Linked DNA regions of Homo sapiens. The protein of the gene in region 2 interacts with the protein of the main gene of each other region in a pairwise test. Each region holds a gene or a part of one and is shown on either strand. Other genes may lie near its edges.

The links.
Region 1: the proteins of SLC6A20 (region 2) and NBPF19 interact in a two-hybrid assay, tested with the Homo sapiens proteins (one large-scale study listed by BioGRID).

What each region holds. Positions count from the first base shown.
Region 1 is NC_000001.11:149,502,483-149,506,296, reverse strand, and holds part of NBPF19 (NBPF family member NBPF19), read right to left. Parts: intron 3,120-3,814; coding exon 3,068-3,119; intron 2,464-3,067; coding exon 2,291-2,463; intron 1,582-2,290; coding exon 1,530-1,581; intron 880-1,529; coding exon 707-879; intron 1-706.
Region 2 is NC_000003.12:45,793,426-45,797,980, forward strand, and holds the start of SLC6A20 (sodium- and chloride-dependent transporter XTRP3), read right to left. Parts: upstream 3,112-4,555; 5' UTR 2,995-3,111; coding exon 2,874-2,994; intron 2,619-2,873; exon of another isoform or gene 2,474-2,618; intron 1-2,473. UniProt on the Homo sapiens protein: Mediates the Na(+)- and Cl(-)-dependent uptake of imino acids such as L-proline, N-methyl-L-proline and pipecolate as well as N-methylated amino acids.

The DNA.
Region 1 (3,814 bases), on a different chromosome or scaffold from region 2:
AATTCAGACATGGACAGACACATTAAGCTGATTCCCCTACACACATAACAATCCACTGTCTAATCCTCACACAGGGACCTCAGGCTCCTCAGCATAAGAATAGGACACTGTGAGAGATATATTTCAGGAGGCCTGAAGGCTGGTCATGATAGAAATTCCTCGGTTTTTCTCCCAGAAACTGTGGGTAAAATGTCCCTATTCTAGTAGATCGTTATCCCAATATCATTTGTCCCAAGTTTGTGCAAACAGTTATGCCATATTTTTCCAATCAATTTAAAGCAAATACCCTCAAATGATTTCTAGGAGAAAAACTGCAATATTTAGCCCTGTCTCATCAAATACTCAGATTGTTCATGGTTGTGAGGACTTTAGACACTGAAATTAGAGTGAAAAAGGAAATCTACAAACCCTTGAGTCAAAATCATAGTTCTCTGAATTTGTCACATCTGCCCAGGTCCAATGTCATGAGAATAGGATCAGGGCGCCACAGGTATGGCCTGAGACTAGGAAGAGAGTCTTGCTCACTGACCCATCCCTTGTCTGGGCTTCCAGGTAGAACTAGAGTTTCATTCAACCTACATGTGCCTATAGGTCCTCACTGCGGCAACGACATCTCTCAGCTCAGTAATGGCCACTTGGAGCAGGAATATGATCTTTATATGGAAGACTCAGTGGATGCTTATCACCTTCATAGAAAGGTACTCACCTCCCACGTCAAGAGAAAAGCCAACATGTTTTTCCTCCAATGCATAAAAGGAACTTCCATAGGGCTGGCAGGAGTCAGGCTGTTCAAGACAACTGGAAGGAGTTGAATAACATCTATCCAGTGAGTCCTGCAAGACTTCAGGCTCTACTACCTCCACCAGCTCCCTGCTGAGCCTGGAAAAGGAGGAAAAAGTAAAGAATAAGCCAGGGGAAATCACACACAACAGAGCCCCAACTAGGTTTCATGGGTAGCATAGGGAAGTGGTTAAGAAAGTAAAAGGATAGATCCATTAATGAGGTAACAAATTATTGCCTTCATGTTGGGACAGAACAGGGCCAAATGGAAAAGAATGAAAGAGAAAGACAGATGGACACACACACACACACACACACACGCACACACACACACACACACACACAGAGAGAGAGAGAGAGAACGAGCTCAGTGAATTGTCCAGGTGACACACTGATGAGGGAGTAACAGGACACTCTGAGTTAGTGCCCTCAGGACACACAGCATACAGTGATCATGAAAAGACTGTGCTCAATAATTTTCCATAAAATGTGCTCAAGTTTCCATGCAGTCGCCATGAGAATACAGTTTTTGAAGTCTGGTCCACCTACAGTAGGTTAGTAAATGATAAGGGGAGGAAGAAATGGAAACCTAAATATCTACTGCAATGAAAACCAACAGCAATGTTAGTAGGAATAATTCAGGCTTGCTTGAAAAGATGTAATCGATAATGTCAGCCCGCTCTGTTTTCCCTGAACCAGGAGTCTCCAGATGTCAACACAGAAGTAGCTGTTCACAATTGCTCAGTTACCTGGGGCATGGTGGGTCTTGGTCTTCTTCCTCTTCTTGGTCCTTTTTAATTCCTGCAATACATTCAGACAGGGACAGACAAAATAAGCCAATTCACCTACACCCATAACAGTCCACTGTCTAATCCCCACACAGGGATCTCAGGCTCCTCAGCATGAGAACAGGACAATGTGAGAGATATACTTCAGGAGGCCTGAAAGCTGGTCATGATATTCTTTGGTTTGCATCTCAGAACCAAGGGTGAAATATCCCCATTCTGGTAGATCGTTATCCCAAAATCACTTATCCCAAGTTTGTGCAAACAGTTATGCCTTATTGTTCCCATCAGTTCAAAGAAAATGCCCCAGATGATTTCTAGGAGGAAAACTGCAGTATTCAGCCCTGTCTCATCAAATGCCCAGCTCGTTCATGGATGCAAGAATTTTAGACACTGAAATTAGAATGAAGGAGGAAATCTACAAACCCTTGAGTCCAAATCATAGTTCTGTGAATTTTTTGCATCTGCCTGGGTCCAATGTGCTGAGAGCGGGCTCAGGTTGCCACAGGCATGGCTGGAGACTAGGAATAGAGCCTTGCTCACTGACCCATTTCATGTCTAGGCTTCCAACTGAGACTACAGTTTCATTACAACCTATATGCGCCCACAGGTCCTGCCTGCGGCAATGACATCTCTCGGGTCAGTAAGGGCCACTTGGAACAGGAATATCACCCCTATCTGGAAGACCAGGTGGAGGCTTATCACCTTCATAGTAAGGTACTCACTGTCCACGTCAAGAGCCAAGCCAAGGTACTGTTCCTCCAATGAGTAAACAGCACTGCTGTAGGGCTGGCCTAAGTCAGGCAGTTCAAGATAACCTGAAGGAATCGAATAACATCTATCCAGTGAGTCCTGCAAGACTTCAGGCTCTTTCTCATCCAGCAGCTCCCTGCTGAGCCTGGAAAAGTAGGAAAAAGTAAAGAATAAGCCAGGGGGAATCAGAAACCACACAGCCCCAGCTAGATTTCATGGCTAACATAAGGAACTGTTTAAAAAGAAAAAGGACAGATCCATTAATGAGGTAATGAATTATTGCCTTTATGTTGGGATAGACCAGGGCCAGGTAGAGAAGAATGAAAGAGAAAGACAGGGAGAGGGAGAGAGAGAGAGAGAGAGAGAGGAGAAAGTGAGCTCAGCGAGTTGGCCGGGTGACACACTGATGAAGGGGTCAAAGGACACTCTGAGTTAGTGCCCTCGGGACACACAGCGAACAGTGATCATGAAAAGAGTGGGCTCAATAATTTTCCATAAACTTGCTCAAGATTCCATGCAGTTGCCATACAGCCTTTGAGGTATGGTCAACCTATAGTAAGTTAGTAAATGATAAGGGGAGGAAGAAATGGAAACCTAAACATCTACTGCAATGAAAACCAACAGCCATGTCAGTAGGAGTAATTCAACCTTCGTTGAAAACATGAAATTGAACACACTCTTGTTTTCCCTGGACCTGGCATCTCCAGGTGTCAACACAGAATTAAGCATCCATAATTGCTCAAAGTTACCTGGGGCATGATGGGTCTTGGTCTTCTTCCACTTCTTGGTACTTTTCAATTTCTGCAATAAGTTCAGACATGGACAGATATATGAAGCTGGTTCTCCTACACACATAACAATCCACTGTCTAATCCTCACACAGAGACTTCAGGCTCCTCAGCATGAGAATAGGACACTGTGAGAGATATTCTTCAGGAGGCCTGAAGGCTGATCACCATAGAGATTCCTTGGTTTTTGTCCCAGAAACTGTGGGTAAAATTCCCTATTCTGGTAGATCGTTATCCCAATATCATTTGTCCCAAGTTTGTGCAAATGGTTATGCCATATTTTTCCAATCGATTTAAAGCAAATACCCCCAAATGGTTGCTAGGAGAAAAACTGCACTATTCAGCCCTGTCTCATCAAATACTCAGATTGTTCATGGTAGCGAGGATTTTAGACGCTGAAATTAGAGTGAAGGATGAAATCTACAAGATCTACAAAATTGAGACAAAATCAGAGTTGCGTGAATTTGTCACATCTGCCCAGGTCCAGTGTCATGAGAGTAGGATTAGGGCGCCACAGGCATGGCCTGAGACTAGGAAGAGAGCCTTGCTCACTGACCCATCCCTTGTCTGGGCTGCCAAGTGGAACTAGAGTTTCATTCAACCTACATGTGCCTATAGGTCCTCCCTGTGGCAATGACATCTCTCAGCTCAGTAAGGGCCACTTGCAGTAGGAATATGACCCTAACCAGAAGACTCAGTGGATCCTTA
Region 2 (4,555 bases):
GTTGCCCAAGACCTGCTGACTTTTTCAAAAAGAGATTTTGTGAAGTTCTTTGAGCTGCCTTTTATTTTTTATTTTTCTAGAGCAGGCAGCCAGGGCTGTACAGAGATGATTGGTACCTGGAATGTAATCTTCAGAATTAACATTCCTCATGCCGGGCCGGGCCTGGCCTGGGGAGCAGGAAGGAAACAAGCCTCTCCAGTCACGGGCAGAGTCCCATGGAGAGGGGCACAGATCCCTAATCCGTCTTATTCTGGGAAGTATTTTGGCACAGCCTGGCTCTGTGGTTTATAAACAAATTCTTTGTTTGCTGGGGGTATTTGCAGCTCTGCTTACAAGGAAGTTATACACCCCTCTGCAGCCTTTCATAATGTGGCTGATTTTTACCTTCCGGTAAGGGATGGGTTGTAAACTGCCTGGGTTTGGGGCAACACAAATCACTTCTTAAAGGTGACTTTACTGTGCAGTGAAAGGCTTGGGAAAGCCTCTAGCATCCTCTAGCGTCATTTATTCTGTGGCTTTTCCTAATACCTTGCTCATTCACTCAACAAATATTTATTGGATGGCTCCTGTGACTCCATCACATCACAGAGGTTGGGCCGGGCGGAGACAGAGAAACTGAAGAACAATGTGCAGTTCTTCTGACCAAGTGCTTATGTGGCCTGTGAAGTAGTGAGGAGAGTCAGAGAGCACAACGGAGAGAAAGCAATATTTGGTCCCACCTGGAGGGAATGGTGGGAGTTCTCCCAGCAACAACAGCCTCTCAGGTGGAGGAAATATCTTGTGTGAAGGGTTGAGGCACAGAAGGAGGTGCTCATGGAAGTGTTTGGAAGGCAGGAGGAGGTTTGAAGCTGTGTGGCAGGAAATGAGGTGGAAATATTGGACAAGTGGTCAAGTTAGGTGGTCAAGTGCCTACGGTGCCAAGTGGACTGTTCGGTCTTTATTCTGTAGACATGTGGCTGACAGGGTGCCATCCACCAGACCCACACCCTCCTTTTGTCTGTGCACCCACTAATCCATGCATACACCCAGCCACCAATCCATGCTCCGTCCGGCTTCCACTCATCTATCTATCCACCCATCCAGCCGAAGCATCCTCTGCACCAGGCACAGGATTACTTCTTGTTTCTTTTTCTTGGAACCTGAGGGTCTTGAGGTTTCCCTAGCAACCCCTTGATACATATTCAACTCCAGAACTATCAGCCCCACATGCATCCCTCTGCAGACTATTCAGGTGATGGTGGTATTATAAACAAGGAATTAAGTAGTCATGTGACAGTGAGGCTCACCTGGACTGATGACTGGGAAACATGTACCCAGGATAAAGGTATCATGGGTAGGTCTACTGAGCACAGAATGATGTGGAAATCTCATTCTGACAAATAATTCTTTTTAAGAGTCAGTTATAGAGCTGTTAGAGCACATGGTAATGCTGTTAGAGCATATGGCAACATATGCCCTTCACATCATTATGGTGTATTTATGCACTTCAAATTTTAAAAAGGAATCAGGAAATTAAGAATGCACTGTTTTAAAAACTCTATGAATTAACCTTTTGTTGATTTGGGGTAAGGGGAGGAGGGAGCAGTGTTTAGCTCTTGGTCTTCTCAAATGGGTTCATTTTCGTAAATACTTTGGTCTAACATCTTCCATGATCTTTTATGGTGAAAAAAACATGCTAATTATAGAAGTCCTAATACACAAACACACACATACACACACAAAAACACACACACACGACAAGGTAAACAAAAATCACCCAGAAATTTTGTTAACAATTTGATGTCTTTTCCCCATTCTTTTCTCTGCATATTTTTAAGTAATTGTTTTAAAATGTCAAATCCATTTTATATAGCTTTGAATCTGATTTCTCCTCCCTCCACTTAATACAGGATACGAGAAAATACAATTTTTTTTTTGAAAATGCCGCCTTAAAGGCTGCGAAGAGCAACCTTGAATGGATGCTCTATAATTTACTGAACCAATCCCCTTTATTTGAGGGCTTAGGAAGTTGCCAATGTTTTGCTCTTATTAAATGATGGTGACCATCCTTCTACCTCTGTCAGAACTCTGACAATTTCCTTTAGATACAATTCTAGAAACGAGACAACCGAGAAAAAAAGTGTTTTAGATGCTGAGACTTAAATCCCTCTTGCCACATTGCCTTCCAAAAAGGTACTTGGGCTTCACGAGGTTATAGACATGTGTAGAAGGTGTTCCCAGCTTTCCGCAACGCTAGGGGAGTGCGGTAAGAGCGCGTGGCTGGCTGGCTGTCCCCGGAGCGTGCATGATGCTTCGGAGGAAACATTTATTTAAGAAAAACAAAACAAAACAGAATGATTTGCATTTCCTGCTTTCTGTCGTTCCAAACTCAAACCAATCTCCTTATAAAAAATTTAAAGAAATGGCTCAAGATTCTCTTAACCTGAGTTTCAAACCGTTGATTTAAGTTTCGGATCTGAAAGTTGTATAACGAGTTTCTGTTGAATAAGACAATTTCCTACTCACTTTTTACACCTAAACGTAAGGTTTACTCACTAAGACGTCAGACCATTGACACTTCTCTCGAAGAAGGAGACCGCGTCCCCTGCGCTCTCAGAGCCGCAGCCTGGCCAACAAGGGTGAGGGTTGGGGGCTTGGCCGCCCCCGGGATGGGGCGAGGGGTTCCCGAGGGCTTGGGAGGGCGGCTTGGGAGAGAGCTCCGGCTCCGGAACGAGGTGTCCTGGGAACACTCCCGGGTCTGTAACTTCGGACAAATCACGCTCGCTTTCCCGGCCTCAGTGTGCCGTTCTGTAACTTGGGTCTAACCCCGGCTCGCACACACGGCGGGGACGCGCACAGAGTTGGGCTGGGGCCGGGGCGCGGTGGGCACTCACCTCCGCCGTACATCTGGCACAGGTACGGGAATCGCCACACGTTGCCCAGGCCCACGGCGTACGAGATGCAGGCGAACACGAACTGTAGCGAGTTGGCCCACAGCGGCCGCGCTTTCTCCATGGCCCCGGCCTCGGCGCGCTCGGCTCCGGCTCGGGGGTCCGGCACGGCAGTCTCAGTGCGCGGTCGCCAGGCGCGCCGTCCCACCCCGGCTCGGCTTGGGGGTGGCCCCGCGCCTCCGCCGCCGACGCAGCTAGCTGGTTTTTAAATTGCTAATCTCATTAACGGCGCGCCCGTCCGAGAGGCGAGGCTGGTAAATGGATGACGGCGAGCCCCACCCCGCCCGATCGTCGCGGCCGGGAAGGCACCCGAGATTGCAGAGGACAGGGCGGAGTCCCCTGGGGTCCTCCGGCTCGGCGGGGCCTTTCTTCAGGCTGCGGAACTCCTCGAAGTGGGCGCCTTCCCTCGGCCACTCACCTGTCATTTATCGAGCGCCTACTGTGTGCCAGGCGTTGTCTGGGGACACGGCTGTGAACCACTTCCCAGCTCCGTCTTGGAGCTGACATTCTGGTAGAGGGAAACACTTGAATTGGACTGCATGAAATGCCCCATTTTCAACCATTTTTTAATTTATAGAAAGGACAATGTCATATGGTTCAACCTAGCCCACGTATAAGACTGAGAGACGCGAGGAAGACACCTAAGGCAAAGTAAAGGGGTAAGCAGTTGCGGGGGGTGGCCAGGGATGGTTAGGGAGGGCTTCTCAGAGGAGAGAACATAACATTTGCCAGGGGCCAGAAAGAAGTGAGGGACCTTCCCGGCAGTCCCGTCCCCTCCGTCCACCCAACAGCTTGGCCCTGCGTGCCTACTGGGTCCGGGGACGGAATCAGGTTTTGAACTGCTGTGGGGGACTCTACTGCTCAGGCCAGCCTAGGGGCCAGAAATTTTGATTCATTAGGCCAGGGTAGGGAACTAAGAAACCTCGTATTTCTGCCAGTCTTACAACGTGATTTGCTTGAGGGTGGTCACTAGATAAGACAGAGCTTGGTGCTTTGCAGTAATGTGGAATCTGGGTTTGTATACCAACTCTGCTACTGACTTAGCTGTGTGACCTTGGACAAGGCACTTGACTTCTCTGAGTCTCTGTGTACTCCTCTGTAATGCTAACAGATATCTTCCCCTCTCTCCTGCCTGGCAAGGAAGAGCTCATGTGAGGATTAATTGGGAACTTAGCTTACTACCTGGCACAGAGTAAGTTCTCAATAAAGAGGCCATTACCAAGTCTCCAGCAGGCTGAATGAATGAATGGGTAACATATTAATACTAATGCCACGCTTTGAACAGTGCCTAATACATTGTAACAGATAAGAAAATGCTAAATAATAATAATAAAATTTAAAAGAGATGAAAAGCAGAGTTGCTAGTGAAAATCTTACTTGAAGCCAAAATGAAATCAGTGCTCTAGGACAGCTCCTTGTTGGGCTTTCCCTGGAGTTCCTGCCTGTCTGGTCCCAGAGGAGAAGGGTGAGTAGGGTGAGGGAGGTGGAGGCTTCCTCAGACATATTACCTGTCCTGGAACTTCCTACCTCGAAAAAGCAAAGCAGAAAAAAAAGGCAGCACAGCAGGAGAAACTACTTTAATTTTTTTAAACTTCAGATTCTAGATAAATGTTTTTTCCTACCCA